Linked DNA regions of Homo sapiens. The protein of the gene in region 4 interacts with the protein of the main gene of each other region in a biochemical or structural test. Each region holds a gene or a part of one and is shown on either strand. Other genes may lie near its edges.

Region 1 (7,026 bases), on a different chromosome or scaffold from region 4:
TTAAATATCTAGAAAAAATAGAATTGGCTCATGAAACCAAAGATGTTACAAAATAGTTCAATTTTACAGTAGGAAGAAGGTAAGAGTTGCTGTATTTCTAATTCCCCATAATTTCCACTGAGAAATGACTTAAGCTCTAAAACAGTAAACACTTGGCCATAAATTTTAGGAAAAATATGAGAATAAAGCTGCATGCATTATAAAAGCCAAGCAATACTACTCATCTTAAAATATCAAAAGGAAGAGAGACTTTCTGTACAATTTAACTATGTAATAGTTTCTTTAGCAGCAGTTAAAACAATACAATCCTGTTCAAAATGAAGCCAAATTATTCTGAGTATGTGCAAAACAGTACTGATACTGTCAGTGGACTTCTTAATGATCTTGTGTTTATGTACAATGTGTGAAATATAGTTAAGCTGAGTAAATTTTTTTGTGAGTATACTGTGAATTAGAACAACAAATTTCAATATAAGTTCAACAAATTTCAATACGAGCTCATAAGGCTTTATCTTATTTTTTATTTTCCGTAGTGTTTTCTTCATTGCCACAAAATATTTCTAACCATGAACTGGGTGGTAAATCTCTGAAAAACAAATTTTTATTTGACAAAGTAAATTTTGAAAAGATTTTTTTTTCTTTTTTTTTTTTTGTCTCAGGAAGAAAGAAATCTTGCATCACAATCTTTCTTGCTGGAATAAACTGAAGTAGTCTCACCTATCAGGTTTTCCAGCTTCAAATCTCAGATATAACTAATCATTTTTTCCCTTCTTTGCTTTTCTAGCAAACTTCCAGAAACAAAACAGACAACATTTTGTGACGATAAATATCACAGTTGCCACACAGACCAGCAGGAACCCAATCACATCCAAAGAGTGGTACTGGAACCAGGTGAGGTCGTGGGCTGCAACCCGAAGGTGTTTAGCTCCTTTGTGGCGCATGACAAATTCAATCCAGAAGACTGCTCGATCCAGGGGCTTCACTGGTTGATCATGTTGAATTCTTGATAATTTCATAACATTCTCTTTATATCTGAAAGATAAAAATAAAGACAGTAATGTAGCAGGAAGAGTTACAGACAAAACCCCTCAGACACCGAGTTAAAGAAGGAAGGGTTTTATTCGGCTGGGAGCATCGGCAAGACTCCTCTCTCAAGAGCTGAACTCCCTGAGTGAGCAATTCCTGTCCCTTTTAAGGGCTCACAACTCTAAGGGGGTCTGCGTGAGAGGGTCATGATCGATTGAGCAAGCAGTGGGTACATAACTGGGGGCTGCATGCACCAGTAATCAGAATGGAACAGAACAGGACAGGGATTTTTACAATGCTTTTCCATACAATGTCTGGAATCTATAGATAACATAACTGGTTAGGTCAGGGGTCGATCTTTAACTATCAGGCACAGGGTGTGGCACTGGGCTGTCTGCTTGTGGATTTCATTTCTGCCTTTTAGTTTTTACTTCTTTCTTTGGAGGCAGAAATTGGGCATAAGACGATATGAAGCATGGTCTCCTCCCTAATACTGAAAGTAAGTTAATTTGCCTGTCCATATCAAGTTTACGAAAGGCTTTTAAAGGGCCAAATAATTCAAAATAAATGTCAAAGAATTGACATCGAATTTGTGTATTTTAATTTGAGTCATCATAGAAAGTTTGGCTTTTAAATTGGACTTCTCTCATTGAGAAATATTTTTAAAGTAGAAATTGAATGTTAGCTGAGAAAGTTAATTTTTTTTGAAGCAGAGAAAATATAAGGCATTTTTAATTTGTTTTTAATTGTTTAAGTTTTTGAGGGTACATATTAAGTGTATATATTTATGGGGTATATGAGATGTTTTGATACAATATGAAATAATCACATCATGGAAAATAGGATATTCATCCCTTATGCATTTATCCTTTGTATTATGAACAATCTAATTACACTCTTAGTTCTCAAACAGACATACGGAGAACATGCTCAACATCATGAGCCCTTTTAAGTGCTATGAGAAAGATCGTGAAAATGCAATATGAGAATTATCATCTCTAAGTTCCGAAAAAGTAATTGTGTCATGGTGAGTGACGTGCCTCATAGCTAGTCACTTTGCTTCTACATTACTCTTTTGTCTCCTACTCTTTCCCACCCTGTAGCCAGAATGATTTTTTCAATTAAAGTCAGTTTAAAGCACTCCCCTGATTAAGACTTTTGCCTGGCTTCTCATTATTTTTAGAATAAAATCCAACTCTGTTATTTGGTCTACAGAACCCTACATTTTTAGACACGGGCAAACTCTTTTCCTAACACTTTTCCCCTGCACACTGTCTTCTAGATTGGCCTTCTATTTTACTTTAAGCTCCCAAAGGTGTTCTCATCTTAGTACCTTACACATTTTTTTCCCCTCTCTCCCGCTCTTGGAGTACTCTCTCTTGCTACAACCCAAGGAATGCTTCTCTCCCTTCTTGTGGCTTCCTTCTAATGTTACCTCTAAGAGAGGCTTTTACTGGCCACATTATGATGGAACCACTAGGATTTTCTCTATTTTCTGTGCTTATTTTGCTATTTGAGTCCTAGAATTTTAAAATGCATTATATATCTCATAAAATAAACATTTAAATATTAAATACAAAAGATAAATATTCATACACTAAGTGAATAGTTCAAAAATGTAAGATCATCTTGAACATTATCTTGAGGTGAAGATATCGATTTACCTACTGTTCAGATTGTGGTATAGGATATCACAACCTGCCTAGAATAACTCTCTTTTTCTGAACCATTTAGTCACCACTTTTGTCCACCAACTAAGGATTAGCCTGACTTCGAATAGCATACATTAGTTTGCTTGTTTATGTAATTGAATTATATAATACGTACTCATTAGTGTCTTTTTTTAATGTAGCAGTTGTTGGGTAATTCCATTGCTGTGTAGTATTCTGTTGATTGATAAAGCACAGATTATGTCTTCATTTTATGATTAATAGATATTTGGGTTGCTAACAATTTTTGGACAATATTGATAATTCTGTCATAAATATTCTTCTATATGGTATTAGATTTATTTATACATATCTGTTGGGTATATAACTGGGAGTAGAATTGTTGAGATAAAAGTGGAGACATAGTTGTGATTCACCTCTTGATCTCTAAAATTTAAAGATATGTTAGTTATAGTTTTTATAACCTCCCTTACTTCCACTATGGCTGGATCATATAGTCTTTATGATATTGAACCTTATTATATGTACTAAATCTTGATTTATTGCCCACCACATATCACTTCAGATAACTATTCGACATGCTCTAGGAAAATGTGTCTTCAAGTTGATATATATGATACATATATGTTTATTGTGTGTGTATGTATGTGCGTTTGTATCATTTTACATTATAAGATTCCATTTGTTAATTGTGTTCTTCAAATGTTTTATGTCTTTACTAATTACTTGCTCTTTTCTAAAGTCTGTTTAGATTGAGTGAAAGTATTTGTATAATCATATTTAAATCTACCAATTTGCTTTATATATTTTTTTTCTATTTGTCCAAGCTGGTTTGTGTTCTTTTTCAATTATTTCCTATCTTCTTTAAAGGTATTTTTATCATTCATTATCCTTCTTTTTTTGTGATAAAGTATTTTTCAAGTATTCCTTTAGATGATACCCTGCTTATATAAAAAAACATTATTGATAGTAGCTATAAATGCTGAATTGATGGTAGCTGGACTCCACAAGGAATTTTGCACATTGATATCTTTGGGTTTGAAAAAATCAATTATTAAAAATTTAACTTAAAATTATATTTTTTGTGCTTCAAAGACCAACATCAAAAAGTAAAATTTAGTGCACCCAGAGTGGGACAAAATATTTACAAGTTATATATCTGACATGACCCATAATATATAAATAGTTCTTAAACTTAATAATAAGACAAATAGCAAAGTTTAAAAATGTTCCAAGGATTGGATAGACTGTTTTCAAAGAAGATATATGAATGATCAGTAGGCACGTATGAAGATTCTCAACACCTTTAGCCGTAATGAAAATGCAATCCAAGACCAGGATGAGAGATCATTTTACACCCACTAAGAAGGCTGTAACAAAAAGTCAGGGAATAACAGGTTTGGCAAAAGTATGGAGGAATTGGAACCATGTTGTACTGCTGGTGGTAGTCATGAATGAAACAAGTACTTTGGAAGACAGTTTAGCAGTTCTTCATAAACATACAGTTCCCACATGAAGCAGCAATTCCACTTATAGTATCAACCCTAAAGAAAGGAAAACATGTTTATGCAAAAACATGTGTAGCAATCTTCCTAATAGCCACAATTGAAAACAATCAAAAGGCCAATGAACTGATAAGTGAACAACTAAAATATGACATATCTTTACTAAAAAATATTAAACTGCTATAAAAAGAAATGAAGTATTAAAACACACAACAACATGAATGAAACTAAAACCAGAAAAAAAAAACAACAAAAAATTAGCCTAGGTGAAATGTCATTTCACAACACCCTAAACTGTATGATTCCATTCATATGAAATATCTAAAGAGAATAATCTATAGAGAAAGGAAACAAATTAGTTAGACCAGGGCTAAGCGGTCATAGGAAGTGACTTCTGTGTCATTGCAGTTTCTTTTGTGTTGATAAAAATGTTCTAAAATTATGTAATAGTGATGGCTTCATGGCTCTGTAAACATACTAAATATATTTGGATTTTATAACATAAACAGGGGGGTTTTATGCTATCAAAATTAAATCTCATTTTCAAGTCTGTTACAATAATGATAATAATAAAAGTTAATTTTTCAGCAAGAAAATGGTTATACTCTGAGGTGTTTTAGATATCTAATTAAAATATTTTATTATATTATTTCAGGTTTATTCTTCCTTTCTTCTATGGATTAATTATGTCAAATTTTTAAGAAATGTATTTTTTGTATTATCTATATCCTTTTAAAATTATTTTTGTGTAGAAAATTGTTTCACTAACTGGCTATTCTTTAGATGTATGTGTTTCAAATTCAATTTTTAAATAACTTATAAAAATAAAAGCAGATTTCAGATTGGTTAAATCATTTAAATTCTTTCAAAATTAGTCTCTTATAAAAAGGATGAAACTCACACTCACTATTGACAAGAGAAGCTATCTGTAAATACCACCTAGTGAAAAATATTGTTCTACTCACGAAGGATCATTAATTACTCTCTTCAATGCATTCAGCAAGTCTGTACTCGACATTGTGTTGAAGTCCACTCTAACAGCTGCTCCCCTGGCCTTCATGTGAGCAATGTTATCAGGTTGATCGGCAAACAATGGAATCCCCACCATAGGGATCCCATGGTAGATTGCCTCGTAGATGCCATTGGCTCCACCATGAGTTATAAAAGCTCTGGTCTTTGGATGACCTAGGATTGGATGAATTTTAGCAAAATTACTCATAGGAATAAAATGAGATGCACAATGAAAGGCTCTGAAAGTGACAGTGTTTTCCAGCTAAAACACTGAACTAAATTAAAATTGTGTTTCAGACTTCGGAGGAAAAAACACGTACTTGTACTGGGTATGTAACTGAAGGCTATACGGTGTGTGTGACTTCAGACTGCAAAACAATACAAGATTTCCAGTTGGGCTAATGAAAAATTGCATTCTAGATTTCAAAAATGTGCAAAAAAGAAGACAGCAAAGAGATAGGCATGAAGTGAACTCTTATTTTAAGTGCAGTCACAGAGTGTGATATATGGGGTGGGCAAGGCAGCAGGCAGTGGTTTGGTGGTGGTGCTAGGATTGAGGAAGGACAGGTCACACTTCATCGTGAAATGTATCATCACTGTATGATTAAGATTAGCAGTTTAATTCTTCAGAAAATACAGAGTCACTGGTGATAGAAGAGCTATTATTTTTAGTGGCATTTCAAATAACCCTGCGGGAGAGGAAAAAAACAGGTGTAAAGTTGTAGAAATAGGAGACAGAGAGACAGCCCAGGAAGTTATTGAAAAATTTTGTGAGATATAATAACACCTGAAATAAAGATTCCCCCGATTCAGACTATAAAGAATGTGGGTGTATATCATAAAATGCCAAAAATTATAATGTATTCTTTCTCCCTTAAGACTGGAAAATCAATATAAAGAAGTTACATTTTGTTTTTCCTTAACAAATATTCAATAAGCTTGTTTCATGATGAACTATTAACACTCTAATGTGCTGTTACTAATATATTCAGTATTTGTTCACCAGAGTCTTACCTAGAAGGTCATTCTGGGGTATCCACTTGTAGAGCCGAGTATTGAGACCTAAGGTATCTGGTTTATTCCCATCAAATCTCCACAGAACCTGTTACAATAAAGAAAATATTTTATTCCATGAGTGGAATTCAAAAGTTATAGAATGTGAGAACTGTATAAAGAGTAGGAATGAGATCAAGGGATGTTAGTAAATAAGAACTACTCAAAGACTAATGTAAATAGAATACTCACATTAATTTTCTCAACTTTTATAATTAGTTAGGTATATAAGGAAATCATGATTTTCCAAAATAGTACCTTAGAAAAAATCAGATTATCAATGAAAATTTCAAGCATTTAAAAAATTGTTACACCTTTTAAAAGAAAACCTACGTGTGGCCAACCATCATATGAAAAAAAAAAAGAAAAAAGCTTAACATCATTAGAGAAATGCAAATCAAAACCATAATGAGATAGCATCTCACACCAGTCAGAATGGCTATTATTAAAAACTCAAAAAATATCATGATACTGGTGAGGTAGTATAGAAAAGGCTTGCTTATAATCTGTTGGTGGGAATGTAAGTTTGTTCAACCATTGTGGAAGACTGGCGATTCCTCAAAAACCTAGAGGTAAAAATACCATGAAACCCAGCAATCCCATTACTGGGTATATAACCAACGGACTATAAATGGTTCTTTTATAAAGACCCATGCACAGGTGTATTAATTGCAGTACTTTTCACAATAGCAACGACATGGAATCAACCTAAATGCCCATTGATTATGGGCTGAATAGAGAAAATATGGTACATATACACT
Region 2 (7,026 bases), on a different chromosome or scaffold from region 4:
AATGTCTGTGAGTGGGAAGGGGAACAGGATCTCAGGCACAGGTGGAGGCCCGGGCTCTGGGCAGGAAGAGACTGGAAAATGCAGACCAAAGTGCTCCCCTCACCTTTAATTCTCCTCTTCCCTTCTACTGACTGCCTGGGAGCCTCCCTCGATGCCATTCTTGTGTTCCATGCTCTGAGACTATGTCACAATCCAGACTTTCACAATACAGTCCCACTAGTTTCTAACTGTGCAATCCTCAGGGACAAAATCCCAGGCCAAGGCCTACAGAGTAAGAAGAGATCACACTAGCATGTGCCGTGTGTGGAAAAAGGGGGTAAAATAAGATAGTCACAGAGCAGGGACTTGTGTCTGTTTCTCCACCAGGCTCTCCTCTTCCATCCTGGGAAGTTACTTTCTGGCACCGGACAAGGGCCACAGAGTAAGAAGGGATCACACTAGTATGCACTGTGTATGGAAAAAGGGGGAAAAAAATAAGATAGTCACAGAGCAGGGGCTCGTATCTGTTCCTCCACCAGGCTCTCCTCTTCCATCCCCGGAAGAGTGACTTCCTGGCACCGGACATGGGCCAGGTGCACAGCAGGCGGGCAGGCAGGAGCCCTCATCGCGTGGAAAAAGCAGCATATCACAGCCGGGAGGGTCTAACTGCTAGCAGAGGCACAAAACGGGATGGGACACCATGCTGAGACCTGAACAGGGCCAAGCCTGACACAGGGGAAACCAGGGCAAAGGTTTCAAGGTAAAAACAAGTTTGGCTTGTTTGAGAAACAAAGAGAAAGGGTCAATGTGATCAGGTGTGGGCATTAGCAGGGAGGACACAGTGTTATTTGCTGAGGTGGGGGAGGTAGGTAAGGACCAGATCATTCAGAGCTTTCCAAACCAGGGCAAAGAGATACAATTTTATTCTAAATGCAACAGGAAGCCATTGAAAGGAACTGAACAGAAAAAGGACAATCTGTTTCCAAAAGATCAAGTTTTTTTTGTGTGCTTCTCCTAGAAATCACACTTTTCAATGCCATAAATAGCATTTATTACTCAAGCTGAAAACTCATAAAACCACCACCCATTTGATGGAACCAATGAAATCCTGAGAACTGACTGCCCAGTGGCCACCATGAGAGGTGGCAAAGATACAAGAGAGGCCACACCAGGGCATCTGCTCTCAGCTTGGAGGAGAAAGATATTCTAACCACCCTGCAACCAACCTCGTGGCACATGCAGAGGGGATATGGACCCGGAAGGGGAGGGCGAGAGATGAGCGGGACCCACTGAGGGATTTATCAGAGCAGGAACCTCCTCGGATTTCCATTTAAACAATCCTTCCCAGGGCAGTCATTTAAGATGCCTTTCACCAAACAACACATGCCTCCTCACACATACCCACTACACGTGCAAACAATCTCTTTCCGAACCAAAACCACACCGATGATTCAGCCCCTGCCAGGTGAGAGCAGCATCTGGGTCACAAACAAACTGAGGCCGTGAAGACTCCACCCCGACTCCCTCTATTTAAAAATTCCTCTACAAGAAACAGGAATGGCTGTTTCCTTCACCTCCTAGAAGGCAACATAGTAAACTGACAACAGATGGAAAGAAAGGCATATTTTTGTCCATTAACTTTCCAAGGGTTTTGGCTTTGTTCAGATATTTGCATCACAAATTCCCTTTGCTTTCTCCCTGGTTCCTCCAGAGAACTCTCCAGTGATCAAGGTCTCCAGCAAATGACAGCAACTCTGTATCAGTGGGATGCACTTTTGCTTTTAAAGCTACGCTAGGTTCTCATCAATACTCCTTGGATCTCAAGCCTCAGCAACAGACTCAGCACTGAAGACACTGGGTCGCAGCGCCCGCAGCCTGGACTGAAGCCCTGGCTTTGCTCCTTATCGTCTGTGGGACTTGCTGAGCAAGCTGCAAAATCTCCCTAAGACATACCGTCTTACCTTTAAAAGGGAGGACACAATCACCACTGACCCCATAGGGTTGTTTTGAAGATTAAAAGCACAGGCCGGGCGCAGTGGCTCACACCTGTAATCTTAGCACTTTGGGAGGCCGAGGCGAGTGGATCACTTGAGGTCAGGGGTTTGAGACCAACCTGACCAACATGGTGAAACCTCATCTCTAATGAAAATACAAAATTAGTCAGCCTGGTGGTGCATGCCTGTAATCCCAGCTACTTGGGAGGCTGAGGCAAGAGAATCGCTTGAACTTGGGAGGTGGAAGGTTGCAGTGAGCCGAGATTGCACCATTGCACTCCAGCCTGGGCAACAACAGTGAAACTCCATCTCCAAAAAAAAAAAAAAAAAAAAGAGAGATTAAAAGCACAAACGCAAAGAAGGTTTTATGTGCAAAAAGCACTTGGCACACTCCCTAGCACATACTGAATGTCCATAAACATTCAGCCAACGTCCACTGCTATCACTTTTCTTATTAGCTCACTAGGGATTGTTGGGGAGGGGAGGATTAAAGAATAGCATTTACTTGGGGACGATTAATGAATGGCATTTACTTAATTAACACTTTCTGAGGAAGACGAGGGAAAGAAGTCTGGATATATTTTGTGACCTGGCTAATTCTGGACACAGCTGCACAAAGCTTAATGAATAGGTCTGCCAAGAACAAACAATAGCAGGCAGTGAAAGAAACAAGCTGCAAACTGACACTCCCCAGGCCCTCAACTACAGAAGAGTTCAAGTGATTCCATTTCAGACAGGCTCCCGTGCCCACCAGCCAGGCAGAGAGGACCCTTAACTGAGCCTAGAGGCTGTTAATCACCCCATCCCTTCCCTTAGGTCCACATCCCTTATCCCTCGCCCCCTCCAGAGCCTCCCCAGCGTCAGTGCTGGTTCAGATGCCATCATTTTGGCATGGGCCTGCTAGAGACAGAATTCTACGGATGTAAGAAAGTAACTTCTTGCCATCATCCACAGAGCCGTCAGCTCTAAGCCAACAGGCAGCACAGGCCAGATTCTATTCAACAGCAAGAACGGAGCTGTCCCCACCCAATCTTCAGCTCACCCTCCCGGTCCCCATGTTGGAACTCAGTAAAAGGCACAGATACCCAGTTACTATATACACTCAAGACTATGTTCCCAAGAAAACTAGGTCCAAGGGTAATAGGAAAGGAAGCACACTTGATTAAAATGTTCTGTTTTTCAGAATTAAGGGCAATGAATTTCAACACCCATACTCTGTTCCTCTATCCCCAAGCCTTGGAAAGCACTGGTCTATGCAATGTAGGCAGCCATGTTCAAAGGAAAATAACAAAGAGCAAGTCCCTACAACAAAACCTGCTAGAAAGGACACTCTTGAGACTCCAGAAATGGCTCTGAGCCTGCTACTCAGTTTCCCATGTAGTCAGCTGCTGCCTCCGGTCACTTTTCTGATGCTTTGAGCCTTCAGACAATGAAATTCTTTCATAGAATAGACAAGGTATTACTTGCCACAGCTTCACTTTTAAGAGAATTTATAAGCTAAAGGGGATAAAAAATTATTCCATACATTTCCCTTTTTAACAGAAGTACACAGCCAAATTCAGGAAGGGAGGTGAATGAGGCGCAACCAAGTTCCTCCACTCCTAAGAACCGAGAAATGCACACACTGGTGTGCCACCCCAGGGTGCTCTGGTAACATCCATCAAAATTTAGAGTGGCTCATGCCTGTAATCCCAGCACTCTGGGAGGCCAAAGGGGGCAGATCACTTGAGCCTAGGAGTTCGAGACCAGCCTGGGCAACAAGAGACTACATTTCTACAAAAAATACAAAAATTAGCTGGGCATGGTGGCTCATGCCTGTGGTCCCAGCTATTCCAGAGGGAGGACTGGTTGAGCCCAGGAGGTCAAGGCTGCAGTGAGCTGAGATCACACCACGGCCTGGGCAACACAGCAAGACCCCATCTCAAAAAAAAAAAAAAAAAAAAAAGTAGAAGTGTACATCCTTTCACCCAAGAATCCCACTTACAAAGATCTACCATAAGGAGGTAATTGCAGGTGGGAACCTAAAAACATGGAAGGAAAGAGGATTCCGTATATTAGGATCCCTCTATACAATAAGGAGGCAGCCTGGGAACAGGAGTTACTGAAATTCAGGACTGGTCCCTCAACACCTAGTTTAGTGGGGAAAAAGGGAGATTACAGAGCAGCATGCAGAGCACATTTCCATGGATGTAAAGCACATCCACGAGCAAGGTGTTGTAGTAGTGAGTGTGCAAACTGCTCAAGCTGGCCACCTTCGGGGAGCAGAGCTCCAGGCAGCTTTGAGTTTCTTCTTTGCAGTTTTCCACACTGTCCACTTCCTTAACATGATCATGTATTATTTTCCCCTTACACAATAAAGTTGTATGTTTAAAAGCTCCTGAAATGGGATGATTTCCAATCTTGCAAAGCACACATTCCTGAACAATTATATTTCATGTGAATATTTGTATTTTGAGTCATTTTGTTTACTAGTTAACACTATAATTCCTGAGATATGTTCCTACTAAATGGACCTTCCACATAAAAACAATTTATTTTAAAATTTTAATTCAATCAAAATATAGTCACTTAAATGCCTTCTCTACATATTTTTTCCAGTGTTCTCACATATATCATTTCTCCCAATGCAGATGGCAGTGACAGAATAGTTCCCACTTCAGAACAAGGAAAGTGACTGAAAGAAATACCTGACTTGCCCAAGGTCACCTCCATGATATGTCTAAGACCAGGTCTAGTTTTCCTAACCCCAGCCCAGTGCTTTCCCATGAATGCCCAGCGGGACAGGGTTGTTCAGACTCCACTCAACTACAAAGGCACTTATCAGCCATCTTCACCAGGAGGACTTTTCAGAATACCAGACATTCACATTCAGTAAAATTGTGCATGTTATTTATTCCTTGATTGACCAAAGCCGGCTTGCATGTGTTTTCCCTTCCTTATTTACAATTTTCATCAACCTTTAAGATAATCAAAAAGCAAAAGTTAATTTGCTGTTTCTTTACTGTTTTCTTTACTGTTTCAAAACAAAGTTGCCTCTTGGAACCTCTTTTCAAAAGTAGCAACAGGTTACCAAAAAATATAGAGATATATATAGAAATATACAAAAGCCTCACGGGTTCACATTCCCCAGGTGGCCTTCTAAGATGTGGTTTTACTACCACTTTACCCAAGATGCCTAAGCCACCAACACTACCAACAATAACTTTATATTTCCCTTCTACAGACTCTGTAATTTCTAAGTTTTATTTACCTAACGGTATATATTAAATAATAATAATGTTCCCATTTTACATGCATCAAAGGCATATTTGCCAACTGCAGCCTTTAGTAGCATGAGATTCAGAATACTATCAAATTTTCTTGCAAAAAGCAAAGGCATTTAGTATTTTAGCCCTAAATATGGTAGCTTTAACAAGGGTAAAGATACGTGTTCTATGTTTTTCAAAATTAAGGGCAATGAATTTCAGCACCCATACTCTCTTCCTCGATTCCCAAGCCTTAGAACCACTGGTCTACGCAACATAGGCAGCCATGTTCAATGGAAAATAACAAAGAGCAAGTCCCTACAATAAAACCTGCTAGAAAGGACACTTTTAAGACTCCAAAAATCAAAGTGAGTCAGGAGCCAATAGCTTCTATGAGGCAGAATGCTGTAAAGAACATTTAAGGCTCAGGTCCAAGACTATCAGAATCCCAGGAACACTAGAAAATGTTCTACAGAAGCAAGTTTCCATTTTTATGATGTAAAGGGAGAGGAGACAACTTCACAAAAAGACATTCTGCTTTATAAAATTTTCCAGGACAGTATCTATTTCACGAATCAAACACCCACTGACTTGAACCAAAAGCAACAGCTAATGGAAGTGTTGTTAATTACAGGATACCTTTCTCTCTCCCCTCCACAGCTCTTTTAAAAACTGAATAGATGCTGCTGCCCAAATCACAGAAAGGGAAATGCAAACATTTCTCCCCCTGGTCCTAAATGCCTAAGTTTTCATTTCAAATAACTGTCCCTTAAAGTTCTATGATCAAGCAAAGACTCAATTTCACAAATATAAACTCAAAAACTAGAACTCAGGATTGAAAAAAAAATCTAGTTCAAAATATGTAGGCAATAAAGCTCAAAATCTTTTAAGTATCAGACAGTAACTAAGCACCTGCTGCTATGTCGACTGCCATTAATAATAAGCCAGTCTTCCCTCTTAGGTTTCTACCCCTCCGCCTAAACAACAAAAACAGCTTTAGTGGCCATTATTTCAGGAGGTCGGAGCACATGCTGCACCTGTGAGCTTCAACCTGTGTTCTTGGCTTGTACCTGCCAGCAGAGCAGGATCCCTCCACCATCTCACCACACACCTTCTCAACATGAACACGGACATGCACATAAATCTAGGACATTCTGAAAGAAGGGGAAATACTCAGCCATGAGAAATCCTGTCCATACGGATGGGGGATCTCACAGTAAACAAAGGTCTAGCCCATAATGACTGAAAGTTCATTTGAGAGTTAGAAGGAGAAGATAAATCTTTCCTATTTAGGTAAATTAGGTGAGATAAAATATTTGTTAGTTAACACACAAAGGCTTCATGAAATTCTGGAGCCTTTCAACAATAGAAGACAGGAAAGAGGATCGGGCAAGCGGGGAAGAGAGACAGAGACATTCTGCACTCATTTCTGTTTTAAAAGTACGTTTCAGACAAACAGACTAGCCTCATAACAAACTACCTGGCAGGGCAGTGTGCTGAAGAGCTCTGAGCGAGTGAGCTTATTGGAGATATAACCCCAGGAGCACAGGAAGTCACCTGCAAGGAATCCTGGCTAGAGTCTCAGATAGAACCCAGAGAGAGGCTCCCAGAGGCTTTGCCGGGGGCTGGGAAGCCAATGACCAGGACATGCAATAAGCAAGAGATGGTCACAGAAAGTCAAAGCAAATAATAAAGACGGCAAATGGAAAAACACGTCCATAAGAGGTCGAATCGGGAGGTGCCCAGAGGTCAGACACAATCCAGTGAAAGGCTAAGTGGCCTTGCTTGTTCCCAGAACCACATGTTGG
Region 3 (7,026 bases), about 24 Mb from region 4:
TAACCCCATCCTTCTTTGCCTTGGCATCTAGGAAGCTCTGGGCAGAGCTGTGTGCTCAACCACAAGAGCTTCCCTGGACTGCTTTTTGACACCATCACCTCCCAGAGTCCTTTTCTCAATTACTAGGCTCTCAGCTTTCAGTTCCCCCTCTGGTTTTTGGTTTGGTTGGGGAAAGCATGGAAAGTGAAATTCAACAAACTCACAACCCAGTTGAGCTATAAAAGACCAACAGACCTTGGTTCAAAACCTAGATATGCCACCTATGCACTCTGGGATCCTGGGCACACGATTTATCACAGTCCGTCTCCGGGATGACCATGCTCACAGTGCTACGTTGGTTACATGAGACATAAACACCCAGCGCAGACACTCAACGGTTACACTCAACTCCTTTTATTTTCATTAGAATTTTCTATTATTTATTTATTTGGGGAATTTTCTATTTTTCATTTATTACTGTATATTTTGAGATGGGGGTCTCACTCTATCACCCAGGTTGGTGTGCAGTGGTCTGATCATGGCTCACTGCAGCCTCAACCTCCCTGGGCTCAGGTGATCCTCCCACCTCAGCCTCCCAAGTAGTTGGGATGACAGGTACACACCACCACACCCAGCTAATTTTTAAACACTGATGTTTAAAAACACTAATTTTTAAATAGAGATGGTGTTTTGCCATGTGGCCCAGGATGGTCTTGAATTCCTGGGCTCTAGTGATCCGTCCACCTCGGCCTCCCACAGTGCTAAGATTATAAGCATGAGCCACTGTGCCAGGCCCTAGGATTTTTAAAATAAACAAATTTATTCATGTCTTCAGCATCCAGGTAACTGATCTAGAAAGATTTAGAGTCAGAATATTCTTCTTCAATTATAAAATGATTACTGAATAAATTATCAACTACAGAAGGAACTTGAGACACAATTTTTCTTTTCTTTTTTTTTGCAGAGACAAGTGAGCATTTATTTTTGTGCCTTTCTTCCTATGTATATTTCAAGCCTTTTTCAAGGCCCCAGGAATCTCCGGATTCAATTATGTCCCCGGGCTTGGTCGACTGCTGCAGGACTCTTAGGGAGCCTTGTACAAATGCTAGAGTTACTCATTCACCAACATTAAACCCTAGGATAGAAGATGCAACAAAGCAAGACTCCTTTCTCCACAAAATGTGATTTCAGACAAGGCAGCAGCCAACGTAGAAAACGCTGGAATTTTTCCTTGGAACTGGACTGTGATGAGAGGTGCCGCCATGAACGTAAGCTACTGTCTTTTCTTTTCTTTTTTTTTTTTTTTGAGATGGAGTTTCGCTCTTGTTGCCCAGGCTGGAGGACAAAGGTCTGATCTTGGCTCACCACAACCTCCGCCTCCCGGGTTCAAGCGATTCTCCTGCCTCAGCCTCCCCAGTAGCTGGGATTACAGGCGTGTGCCACCACGCTCAGCTAATTTTTGTATTTTTAGTAGAGACGGGGTTTCTCCATGTTGGTCAGGCTGGTTTCGAACTCCCGACCTCAGGTGATCTGCCCGCCTCAGCCTCCCAAAGTGCTAGGATTATAGGCGTGAGCCACCGGGCCCGGCCAGCCACTGTCTTTCCTTTGACCCTTCCTTTACAGTTTTTGAAGATAAAGCAGGAAATAATCTTCTCTGAAGATACTTGATAAAAATTCCACCCCGCCCCCAAAAATAACACAAGCTTCCAGTTCATTGATAAAAATTTACTGTAGTTTGGCACCTGGCTCTAGTTCAGCTGGCGGATGAGCTGATTGATGCACACACCCCCAAGAAGATGGAGGTGTGCCAATCTCCTTCAGAAAGTCCACTATTTTTGGTAGCATGACAGTCCACTGAGAGGTGGAAAGGGGACAAGAACCATGAGATCTCCTGGAAATGCTTCCTTGGGAAGGCAATTTCATGAATGAGGTCTTCCAAGCAAAAGACACCAAGCTTTCCCAGGTGCTCCTCAATCACTGTGTTGTCAGAGGGATGGTCTTATTCTTGACCTTGGCTTGTCTACGTTTCAAAATGAGTTTCTGGACAGACTTCAGATTTGGAAATCCCCAGGTCACATAAGGTTACATACTATACGCTGCATTTTTAGGTTTAAGTCTTGCAATGGCTCTCCGCACCAGTAAACTCACACCATCAATCCTTTCGACGCGTACAACAAAGGCCAAGGAATGTTTATCTGGCGATTCCAAGGTGTGAGGTTTTACTTCTAGTCGTCTGAGACACACCTTGTCATGTTTCTGCCGCCAGGAATCATGTAGGAATGATTCCAGTCGTTTAAACCTGAGCTCTTTTCCTTCCCTCTGCTCCTCCTTTGCCAAAAGTGCCTACTTTGACTGGGTGGCTTTGAGGCCTTGATAAGCCTTCTGCTTTCAGGAGATTTTCTGGAGCCAAAGGGATTTTTCTTTGCTCCTGCTTTGCCATCTTTCTAGTGTTGCAGCTACTGAACATGCGCAACCCCACCACTGACACAAAATTTTATACCTGGATGGAAAACTAAAGTCCTACCAAAAGTTCCTACTGTACTTTGGAATAATCTTCAGAAGTACAGACCAGGCCAGGCGCAGTGGCTCACGCCTGTAATCCCAGCACTTCGGAAGGCCGAGGCGGGCAGACTGCTTCAGGTCAGGCATTCGAGACCAGCTGGGCAACATGGTGAAACCCCATCTGTACTAAAATTACAAAAAATTAGCCAGGCATGATGGCACACACCTATAATTCCAGCTACTCAGGAGGTTGAGGCACGAGAATTGCTTGAACCCAGGAGGCAGAGGTTGCAGTGAGCCAAGATTGCGCCACTGCACTCCAGCCTGGGCGACAGAGTGACAGGCTCTGTCTCAAAAAAAAAAAAAAAAAAAACTACAGATCAGACCCAATTTTGACATCTGAGCTCAGTCAATATGCAGGAGAAAGCTCAGCAGTAAACTTGGGGGACAGAAGCCATATTTATTCATTCATCCATTCATCCAAGTGCCTACCTTATGCCTGGCATTGTTCTATGCCCCAGCTTACACTCGCAGAAATGATAGGTTCCCTGTTCTCAACTGAATTCACCTTCTAGTCCAACCGTATTGCCACTAGGGAGGGGAGAATTAGACACCTTTTATTAAGTCACTGTTTATCCTTTATGAAAGCAGATGAAGAAGAAAACATGCAATAAGACAGTGACAGTGACCGGGCACAGTGGCTCCTGCCTATTATCCCAGCACTTTGGGAGGCTGAGCTGGGTGGACCACTTAAGGCCAGGAGTTCGAGACTGGCCTGGCCAACATGGTGAAACCCTGTCTCTACTAGAAATACAAAAATTAGCTAGGTGTGGAGGCACGTGCCTGTAGTGCCAGCTACTCGGGAGGCTGAGGCAGGAGAATCACTTGAACCTGACAGGTGGAGGTTGCAGTGAGCCAAATCGTGCCACTGCACTCCAGTCTGGGCGAAGAGAAAGGAGGGGTGACCGAAGCAGGGTTCCAAGATCAACCAGCAATGGTACCATGGACAGATCTTGGAACGTGGTAGGGAGGGGAAGAGAGGGAGAATTATGGGTCAATTACGGGTCAGCGCAGCAGGAAGTGACAAGGGGCTACAGTAAGACCACAGCAGTGGAAAGAGATTTAAAGGGCCGGGCGTGGTGGCTCACGCCTGCTGTAATCCCAGCACTTTGGGAGGCCGAGGCAGGCAGATCGCCTGAGGTCAGGAGTTCGAGACCAGCCTGGCCAACACAGTGAAACCCTGTCTCTACTAAAAATACAAAAATTAGCTGGGCGCGGTGCCGCGCACCTATAATCCCAGCTACTCGGGAAGCTGAGGCAGGAGAATCACTTGAACCTGGGAGGCAGAGGTTGCAGTGAGCTGAGATTGTGTCACTGCACTCTGAACAACAGAGCAAGAATCTGTCTCAAAAAAAAAAAAAAAAAAAGACTAAAAACTTACAGGACTTGGTGGTGGTGGGAGACCCAGAATGGAGAGGAAGGGAAAAGGGACAGGAGTCTTTTGTCCTTGGAGCTTCAGGGCCCAGGAAGTCGGTGAGGCCACTGACAGATAGAGCTCTTGTTGTGGAGGTTTCGGGTAGATGGGCTGGGAGCTTTTGATCACTGCTGTGACGCTGAATGACTCCTGAGTTTGCAAATCACGTTACGTAAGGAACGCGTCCAACGTGTCCATGTTAAGACTGTGTGGTTTCATGAGCAGTCAAAGGGTCTGAAGCCCTTCACCAAAACCAACAGTGGCTTTTCTCCACAAGACCACAAATACCTGACGGAACATTCCTGATGCCAAACTGCACTCTGAATGATGCCGGGCACCACTGGCTAATGCACTCTCCTGTGTATTCAAGAACTGCCATCCCTGTTTGCAGTGTTGAAAACTCAACCCAGGTGACCTATGGTCACTACATATGAGTTCAGAAAGTTCAGAAAGGTGACCGTAGTTCACGTGTTCCTAACCAAACCTGCAAACCTTTGTACAGGCCCGGCTTACCCAATGCACTGATGATGCATGCCCACGAAGATCAAAGTATCACTAGGACACAGTGCTCTAAGAACACCGGCATCACCACCGCAGAGGTGATGTGACGTGAGCTCAGAAACAGGGCTGTAGGAAAAAGTGCCGAAGATAAAAGGAGGGCAGATAAATAGAATGAGTAAGCACTGTTCTTAACTTTCACCTAGAAATAAATTACATCTGTTCCAAGTTAGAGGACACGCCCCACAATGCCCCATCTTCCTCCTCATTACTACATCCAAGTAGACAAAAGGCAACTTTCCCCCTTCTATTCTCCTACCAAATGTCTCCTAAAGAATTCAATTCTTATAAGCTGGACATGGTGGCTCACGCCTGGTAATCCTAGCACTTTGGGAGGCTGAGGCGGGTGGATCACTTGAGGTCAGGAGTTTGAAACCAGCCTGGCCAACACAGTGAAACCTCATCTCTACTAAAAATACAAAAAAAAATTAGCCGGGCGTGATGGCACGCGCCTGTAATCCCAGCTACTTGGGAGGCTGAGGCAGAAGAATTGCTTGAACCTGGAAGGCAGAGGTTGCAGTGAGCCAAGATCACACCACTGCACTCCAGCCTAGGCGAGAGAGTCAGACTCTGTCTCAAAAAAAAAAAAAAAAAAAAAAAAAAAGAAATTCAACTCTTGGAGAACAGTCCACAGCTGACAGCACCACAGTCTGGCCACCAACATATTCTAAGTTAGCCTTGAAACTGACGCATTTCGGGAAATTATGTGTACAATTCTCTCAGCTAGGTACAGATGCTGCACAAAGGAGATCCGAATGCCACACCCTCCAGCACTCCAATGAAAGGACAATTCTTAGATATCCCCCTATCCAAGTCACCTCTTTAACAAGTGAAATAAATAAGCTTCCCACATCAACAGTTTGCTGCACAAGCCACCAGAAGGATCAGGTTCCCCGGGGCTTTGTTCACAACACGTCCAAGCATCAACTGAGTTGCCACACCGACCAGCGTCAGGAGTAACAGTTACTGGGCTGGGCGCGGTGGCTCATGCCTGTAATCCCAGCGTTTTGGGAGGCTGAGATAGGAGGCTCACTTGAGGCCAGGAGTTTGAAACTAGCCTGGGCAACATAGCCAGACCCCACTTCTACAAATAATAAATAAATAAATAAACATACAGAGAGAGAAAAGGAAAGAAAGAAACAAACTGATGAACGTGGCTCCAGTGAACCCAACCAACTGGAGCCACCAATCTGCAAAGAACCATGGTCTGCCCCCATGGAATTCCTCCATCTTCTCTCCCTCTTATATGCATACACACACACACACACACACACACACGCACGCACAGATGCAGACAGGCGTGTGCACACTAATCCCAACAAGAACACAACTGATGTAAACATCTCGCTTGGGGAGGAAAAACTTTTAAGATGTAGAGCTCTAAAACAGTATGATTACAAATTTAGACACAGTAAAAATTTCCCAAATGGTTGTTCATTCACCCAGAGAGGATATTAGGCAGTAAGAGAATATTCAGTACAAGAAAACACTGTCCTGAGCCAGACATGGTGGCCGGTGCCTGTAATCCTAGCTACTCGGGAGGCTGAGGCACAAGAATTGCTTGAACCCAGGAGACAGAGGTTGCAGTGAGCCAAGATCACACCACTGCACTCCAGCCTGGGTGACAGAGTGAGACTCTGTCTAAAAAAAAAAAAAACACACAACACTGATCTGAGCTAGTCACATAGCCCTGACCTTTTAAAACACCTCCCCATCTCTTCCCATGGTTCCTAGGACCATTTCAGACAAGTGCCACCACGCGACCTCAGCCTCATGCAATCTACACCCTACATGCCCCCCAGAGCTGGTGTGCCTGGGTGGGCTCAGAGAACTCCTAGCAATCCTCCAAGACCCAACTCAAACATCACCTCTCCCCTGGAGCCCTGCTGTGGAAACAAACAGCAGGCTCAGCACTAATAAAAGCCTCACCCCATCATCTTGAGAATGAATGCAACACACCGTGCCATTCTTGTTGAATTGTATGCTTGCTTCCCTCCCTGTGAGAGTTCTCAAGTGCCCAAACCAGAGCCTACACATATCCTAAGGCCGGATGTGTGCTTTTTTATGTGTCACGCTACAGGGATCCAAACAGCGCCAAGAAGATGAAGAAGGACCCACTGCTGAAAGGGTTAACATGTTCTGAGCTGTCCCAGAGGCAGGTGGAGTGGGTTCTTTCTCTGACTTTAGTGATGAAGAAACTAAGGCTTGGTATAGGTCAGCGGCCTATGCAAGCAGGTAAGTGACCTCTGACTCAGATGCTTCTCCCACCTGCCCGGCGGGTCCAAATTTCTGCCCAATGCCAGATGACAAAACTGCACAGCAAAACAAGTTGTTGTTTTTTGGGTTTTTTTTTCTGAGACAGAGTCTCACTCTGTCACCCAGGCTGGAGTGCAGCAGCACGATCTCGGCTCACTGCAACCTCCGCTTCCCAGGTTCAAGTGATTCTTCTGCCTCAGCCTCCTGAGTAGTTGGGATTACAGGTGCACACCACCACACCGGCTAATTTTTGTATT
Region 4 (7,776 bases):
GCTTCTGCTCCAGCCATGTAAGATCTGTCTGCTTCTCCTTCACCTTCTGCCATGATTGTAAATTTCCTGAGACCTCCCTAGAGGAAGAAGTCACTATGCTTTCTGTACAGCCTGCAGAACCATGAGACAATTAAATCCCTTTTCTTTATAAATACCCAGACTCTGGTATTTCTTTATAACAATGCAAGAAAAGACTAACATAGCCAGACATGCTAATTTTTCTCAAGGTGGTCAATCACAAAGCAGTCAGTTTATTGCATCTGCCCATCAACTATCTCTGTAGGAAAACCCATTAAGGCTGGTGCTCCCTAAGGCAGGCCTGCTTGCAACTCATCTTTGATGGGTCATGTATGAACTCCCCGAACTGGGGTTTCTGGATGTCTGAAGACCTTCCCAGTCTGATGTTACTGAGGGTTGGAAGACTGGAGGAAGAAGAAAAGCTGATGGAAGAGGTCACCATCCTTCAACTCAACCATGAATCTGCTAGTCCCACAAGGTTGGCCCCAGAGAGGCAAATTAGGAAAATGTAGCTGAAAAGCATGGTGTGTATAAATGGATCCATATGCTTCATATGGGCTTTTAGCTAAAAGGTAGGGGCCTTCGAATGTCCACATTCCCTCCTGTTTATAACAAAAGATGTAGTATTCCACATAAGTAAACATAAAATGTTCCAGACAGTTGAATTAAAACCTTGTTTTCTCTTCTTTAAAGGGTAGCCCTTAAGACAGTATAGGTTCCAAATATTCTGTACAAATCCGGTGACTGTGATAATATGTGGTAAAATACAACTGAGAAATGGCGTGGAGGCTCATGTTTGGGGGACCCAGCAGAAGCAGCATAGCCAGGCCCAATAGTGCATTTGGATCTTTGCCCCAGAACAGTTAGTGGAAGCGTGTGCACCATCTACCAAAACCAGGGTGGCCTTGGGTTTTCCCACTCCTGTTCCTTCCTTTGTTGTCACAGCCATGGCAAATAAATGACACTAATCTCTGCTTCTAAACTTTCTACAAGTTACATGACCTCTCAGGCCAGGACAAACTATTGAGTTAATGTGTCAGCAGCATTGGTCCCCAAGGAATGATCTAGGTGAATGTCTAGACTCACATGGTTCCGTGTCAAGGCAGAGGCTAGGCTGGGCAAACTGTGTAGTTTCTTTCCAGCTCCCCTCTGTTTGGTAGAGTAATGCTGCTTTTGGTTCCAATGAAGAGGCTAACAGAAAAGCCAGTCATCTATTGCACTTAATTGTGTTGGCCTAAGGAGGGCATTGTCTGCACTACAGTTTCTGACTCCTGGGCTGCATCAGCATCATCTAAGGCTAAGGTATTGTCTGCCCAGCTGCCTGAGTCTGTAGTGACCACCCCACAACATGGCAGACCACACACAGAGTGACACAGATGGTGCCTCTGTGTCCAGGCTTCAAGCAGATGAGATGCAAACATGTTTGTCCTTTGAGTGACCTCCACTACGGGGCCAGGACCCATGAATATCTCTTTGGAGTTCTACCCTGAGGGATGAGGAATATTTTCTTACTCCATTTTGATCCTACCTGGATGCTTTTGCTGTCATCACTGGCTCACAGTCTTGCTTACTCCTCTGCCCTGAGCGTTTAACATAACCTGCTAAGCAGGTTTGTTTGAAATAGGGGTATTAAAATGAACGTTGGGAAGGTATATTTTAAAAGATATATGCAATCTTGTCATAGAGTTATACATTTGTGCATTAGATTCATATTCCTGACATGATTCTGGAAAGGTGAGGTTATTTTACACACATTTATTGTAACAAATACTGAACTAACAGCCCTCATTTGTCACCTAGAAGGAACATGTTGGAAATAGACTATCTCCAAAAAAATCTGGTTTAAAATAGAATGAATTTAAGCCATATCAATTAGTGTTAAAAGGTCAGAAGATGGAAAATATGTTGCCACAACTCACTGAATTTCTAACCTTTCTGTGAAAGAATTAAAATGAGGTTTATATTTTCTATTTTCCTGTCATTATGATTCCCAAATCTTAGTAAGAGTGAAATTGAGGTAGAAGTGAAATGTGACATGTGAGAAGCCTCCACTACCCACAGTGGGGAGTGACTCTTCTCTCTACCTGCTCTAGGATGGCAGGATCCCACCAGTGAGAGGATTCATCCTCTTCTACTGCAACATAAAGGGGAAAATGTAAAATCCAAATTCTAGTTTAGTAAGGAGAAGCCAGGTTTCCACAGCCAAGTTTGGAATGAGATCCGTCACTACTTTCCTTCCTTATCCTCCTTGGGTCCAAACTATTGTCAAGTAGATCATCCTCAATCAATGCTATCCCAAAACCCTTCTTGCCACTAAAGATGGATGGGGAAGATGCTTATTTATTCCTTTATAGAGCTGCATAAGATCTACAATAACCTCTATATGTTTGTAGCATCCAACACTTAAGCTACTGCTCCTTGAACATCTTTTTTTTTTTTTTTTTTTTTTGAGACAGCCTCACTCTGTCACCCAGGCTGAAGTGCACTGGCATGATCTCAGCTCACTGCAACCTCCGCCTGCCGGGTTCAAGCAATTCTCCTGCCTCAGCCTCCCAAGTAGCTGGGAATACAGGCGTGCACCACCATGCCCAGCTAATTTTTGTATTTTTAGTAGAGACAGAGTTTCACCATGTTAGCCAGGCTGGTCTTGAACTCCTGACCTCAGGCAGTCCACTTGCCTTAGCCTCCCAAAGTGCTGGGATTACAGGTGTAAGCCACCACGCCCGGCCTGAACATCTTTTTTGATCTTCAAAACAGATAAGGGAAAGAGAGGCCTGATTAGCACCCCAAGTCCAAGGAAACAGAGAAGAGGAGCCTGGACAGTTACTCACAGATAGAGGAGCACCAGGCTGACAGCCAGGAGAAGCCAGGTTTCCATGGCCAAGTCTGGGATGAGAGCCATCACTACTTTCCTTACTTATCTCTCTCCTCTGAGTCTTCCTTTCAGCTCTGTGTTGCTCTTTGCTGGGCTATGTGCATGGAGCTTTCCTGCCCTGCACAGCAGTGATTCAGTGAGGCTGTTGGATTGTTTATATGCTAGAGAAGGAGGCAGGGCTGGAGCTGCAGCCAGTAGCAGGGCCACCTGTGCTCTGCCTGCAGTTGGAAGAGGCTTCTCCACCTTGGAAGTTGGCAAAGAATCACACACACACCACTCACTGACCTCCTTTGAGTTCATATTCTATGAGGTATCATAAACAACTCAATCAATGTTACTGGGGAGTCCAAGGGTTCTGGGTTCTTATCAGAAACTCAAGTGGAGCCATTGGCATAAAATCTATTAAATCGCCTCTCTCCTGCCCTTGTCTCTATGGCTGTCCTCATTCCAAAATACTTGAAATTCATCCCAACAAGCCACACCTACAGATCTTTACCTATGCCTGGAGTGTGCCTGTGCCCCCTAGAAGACTCCTACACATCCTTCCAAACCCAGACAGACAGAGCCTTCTCTTAGAGTCTTTCCTCACCAAACTCCTCACACAGATGTAACCATTTCCTCCCCTGGGCACTTTCCATCCCCTTCATGCAATCCTATTGTCCTCTTTCCTCTTTACCACCATTGTGTTTCCACGCCTGTTTCCCTGAACAGAGGTGAGCTCCTCAAGGGCATAGTCTAGTCTTATTCCCTGTCATGGCTCTGGTCCCTACCAGGGTGCTGTACACACAGTGGGCAACTAGAAAGGCTGGTGGAGTTGACTTAGCTGAGATTGCTGGGCCTCTGCATGTCATCCCTTCTGACTTTCTGGTGACTTCTTAGGTCATTAATACAGCCAGAGCTCTTGGCTGTGCCTCAGCTGCTGTCTCTGCACTTTCAGGCTGGTCCTCTGTGATTCTGTTGGCAAGGGGACCCCTAAAGGAGAGACAGGGCATGGATGAGATGGAGCTGATGGCTTGGTGGAATAGTATCAATTTGTGCTGCTTCCTGTGAACCCTTCAAAGGTCCTGCCATAGATAGCAAGTTAGACAGGTTCTTTGCCAAAGAGTGGCCCCTTCTCTCTGGAAATACTGCATGTCTGGAAACAGGAGAGAAAGGAGAGAAGAGAACAGCTGCCCAGATAGCCAGATGGACCCCAACCACCTCAGCCAGCAATGATGGGGCAGTGGTCACTGCAGGTCACACAGCATCAAGGACTCCAATAAGATGGTCCCAGCCTCTTGGGGGTGGAATTGGAGTTCAAAGCAAATGGCTTCCTTTTTGACAAGTGGAGGATTTTCTAATGGGAGGAGGGCAGGCCCCAGGAGCTGGTAGAGATGAGGCCTGTAATAGCAGTTGCTGCCACCTGTGAGCTCCCTGACCCATTCCTGATGGGAGAGATCTCAGTGATGAGGGTGTGAAAATTATATCAGCTCATTATCGTCACTCACACCCAAGTTCTGTGTCTGCCTGGCCTGATGAATGGATTGCATGACAAACAAAATCACAGCGTTCTTAAAACTCAATAGAAATAGGCGATGTTTAAGCTGTGCTTGTTCGCTTCCTTCTCTCTTTATTCTTTCTCACATTCAGCCCTCCTGCAGAAACTGATACTCACCCCAGAAAGACACCTTTTCCCATCCCTCTGGCCCCTAAGCCTCCAGGGCTGCTCGGCACCTGGCCTGAGTGGGTGAACATCATGCCAGATTCCTTGTCAGATTCAAGGCCAAGTGGGTGAATGTCATGTGCAGTGTTGTGCCAGGTGTGTGCCGGGAGCCACATGTTCCTTGGGGACAGCCTAGTGAAGCAGGAGACAAATAAACATGCTTGGATGGTGGTATGCATGTGCTGTAACTCTGGAATCCCTGGGATAAAAGAGCCGTACAGAGAGGCACCTAAGGAAAGAAGTGACAGCAAGCATCAAACCAAAAAGGACAAACATGGGAAGGTGGTGACAATCCCCAAGAGAGGTAGGATAAAAGTCCAGGGAATTTAGATACATTTCTGTCTCCTTTCAGTGGCTTTGCTGAGCACATTAAGTAGGGGCCATGCTACTATCCCCAGTTTACAGATGTAGAAACTGAGGCTCAGTGACTGCAAGTAGCTTCCCAACTGCTACTGATCACAATAAAACTTTATAAAAAGCTAACAGGAAGGGAGATATTAGGTCCTCTCCTGCTCTGGTGCACCTGCCATTCCCTGCTACGCATCACTATGGGAAATAGTGAGACTCAAGGCTGCAACCACAAATTGGTTGGGATTTGTGTTCCTGTCTCAAGGGTTACTCCCAGCGGCACCACCATGGGTCTTCTAGAACAAAGGACTCCATCTCATCTCAGCAGGGAGAAAGAAAGATGCAGTTTCTGACCATATCAGTGGCATTGCTGGAGGATCTCCCTCTCTATGTTCCCACACTGAGAGATGCACAGAACACATTCAGAGAAGTAAAGATTCCAGTGTCATCTGATAACTATCAACAACTTCATTACCTCACCTAAACCGAGAGCCTTTCTTATATTTTTTTTAAACAAAACTCTTACAGAAACAAATATGTTTTCTTCTTGCCTCTAAAACACATACTTGGTAAGATGATTTTTATTCTAAGATGAGGATTTACCTGCCCTACAAACTTTAGGAGGTGGTCTGATTGGTTTGAATCTATACCAACAGTGAGAGACTAATCATCGCTTGGGACTTAAATGCAGCCAGCACTGTGTCCTAACTAATGCAGTTGGTGTTGTTCTGCAAAGGAAAATAATTGAAGGCAAGTTCTGCCACTTAATTCCACAGAAGGTAACATCTTCTAACATGTAGGGACTTGACTACTGAGAGCTGCACTGACTGTGTCAAGGAAGATACATCCAACCACCACATGCCTCTCCCCTGCTCATTTCCTGTATTAAAGCCTTCATCATGTTTTTTAAAGCTGTGCTCTCAGTACTGTGCTCTTAGTACTATGCTTCCAACCAAAGTTGGTCTTGGTCAACTTTGTACCCTAAGCACATAGAGCAGAGACAAATAAGCAGATAATTATAGTACAGCTAAGGAAAAATAATCATACAAGTATGAGAAACATAATGTCCTTATCAACAATGAAAGACTTATCTTCTTTCTCGTTCTAGTTTCATTGGATCAAAGTTCAATCTCAACATTCAGAGAAGCATTAGGCTCAGATATCAGCATCAGTGGACAGGCTGTCCAGGGACTCAACGTTGTAAAGAACACCATCACTCTGATATTTTCATCCTTTTATACTGGTAGCCCAAGTGGTACCTCTCTTCTGGGAAGCTTATCCTGACTTCCAGTAGCCAAGTGAATTGCTGATGGTATGCGGAGGCAACATTGCTCTGGAATTACATGTGTATTCGATTCAAATTTCACAAGTCATGATCTTGAGGATGTAAACCAAAAAAAAAAAAGAAGAAGAAGATTATCTCTCTGTAACTCAGCTGTCAAGTCCCCATTCTTCTCAGTAGGGGAAAACTTGATTTTGCATGTTGGGGTGACCACGTGGTATCTAAGTTTTGCTCTTATTTATTTTTAAAATTGTTTTGAGGCAGGGTGTCACTCTGTTGCCCAGGCTAGAGTTCAGTGCTGTGATTATAGCTTACTGTTGTTTCCACCTCCTGGGCTCAAGTGATCCTCCCACCTCAGCCTCCTTAGTAGCTGGGACTACAGGCATGCAACAACGCCCAGCTAATTTTTAGTACAGATGGGACCTAGCTATGTTGCCCAGGCTGATCTCAAACTCCTGGCCTCAAGTGATCCTCCTGCTGCTGTCTCCTGAAGTTCTGGGATTTCAGATGGGAGCCACCACACCTGGCCTTTAAGTTTTAGTGGCTGGAGGAGGGGATTAGCTAATGCTTTTGGGCCTCATGCTTGGGGGTGGTGTTGAGGAGAGTGACAGGTGCATGGTTATGCTCTCTTGGCACTGGAGGAGGTAGGTGTCTCACTTTCATGACTTTCATGCCACTGTATGTTGGTTAGCCTGTATGCCTGCTGTGTTCAGGGCATGTGGCAAGCACTAAATATTAAAGAATCAAAATCCTTGCCCTTATGAAGCTAGCACTCATATAGGAGAAAGAGACACCAAACAGCCACACAAATAATACTGAATTACAAATTGGGATAAATGCTATGAAGTAAAAGAACCCTTTACTTAAGCTCCCAGTGGTATCAGACACAGTTGATCCTTCTTTCTTCCCTAAACTCTATCTCCCTTTGAGAGACATGAATACAACAGCATCAACAAGACTTGACAGATGGGAAGTGTGAGACCTTGGATATTCCTGGGCCTGTTTCCTCATCTGTCCATGGGGGAAACTGACCAGAATTGGCCTGTGAAGACCAAGGTTCTCCTTGTCCCAATCAGAAGACCCCTGCAGGACTGCCTGCCTCTCAGCCTCTGTGTCCCTCTAGGATTTTTGAAGACATTCCCTGTTCTCTATTCTCCTCTTATAGATCACTTAGGGTCCACCAGGTCTTCCAGCCCAATCAAGGACCAACAGCTCCTGTGGGCGGGAGGAAGAGCAAAGGTGGGATAGGATGGAACTGGGAGAAGATAACCACCCATTTAGGCCCTGAACTTTAAATTCTGGATTGGTTTCTTAACTGAGATTGCAGAGAAAAGGTTTCACACATGCTCACACCCACTCACACACAGCTCTTACTCCAGGAAATGATAGTGAATACGTGTCATGCTAAGTACTTCCCCTGCATTAACTGATTCAATCTGTCCAACAATCATGTGGTATTGATACTGTTATGATCCCTATTTTACAGATGAGCAAACTAAGCCACAGGAAGGTTAACTGACCCATTAAAGTTTACATCACTAATTGCTTTAG

Evidence for each region.
Region 1: the proteins of CYP3A4 (region 4) and UGT2B7 interact in far-western blotting, tested with the Homo sapiens proteins (one study listed by BioGRID).
Region 2: the proteins of CYP3A4 (region 4) and CYB5A form a complex in vitro, tested with the Homo sapiens proteins (one study listed by BioGRID).
Region 3: the proteins of CYP3A4 (region 4) and POR form a complex in vitro, tested with the Homo sapiens proteins (one study listed by BioGRID).

The regions. Positions count from the first base shown.
Region 1 is NC_000004.12:69,106,463-69,113,488, reverse strand, and holds the end of UGT2B7 (UDP-glucuronosyltransferase 2B7 isoform 1 precursor), read right to left. Parts: intron 6,315-7,026; coding exon 6,227-6,314; intron 5,387-6,226; coding exon 5,167-5,386; intron 1,033-5,166; coding exon 753-1,032; 3' UTR 502-752; downstream 1-501. UniProt on the Homo sapiens protein: UDP-glucuronosyltransferase (UGT) that catalyzes phase II biotransformation reactions in which lipophilic substrates are conjugated with glucuronic acid to increase the metabolite's water solubility, thereby facilitating excretion into either the urine or bile.
Region 2 is NC_000018.10:74,281,948-74,288,973, forward strand, and holds part of CYB5A (cytochrome b5), read right to left. Parts: intron 1-7,026.
Region 3 is NC_000007.14:75,918,148-75,925,173, reverse strand, and holds part of POR (NADPH--cytochrome P450 reductase), read right to left. Parts: intron 3,073-7,026; exon of another isoform or gene 2,974-3,072; intron 1-2,973. UniProt on the Homo sapiens protein: This enzyme is required for electron transfer from NADP to cytochrome P450 in microsomes. It can also provide electron transfer to heme oxygenase and cytochrome B5.
Region 4 is NC_000007.14:99,781,162-99,788,937, forward strand, and holds the start of CYP3A4 (cytochrome P450 3A4), read right to left. Parts: upstream 3,024-7,776; 5' UTR 2,921-3,023; coding exon 2,850-2,920; intron 1-2,849.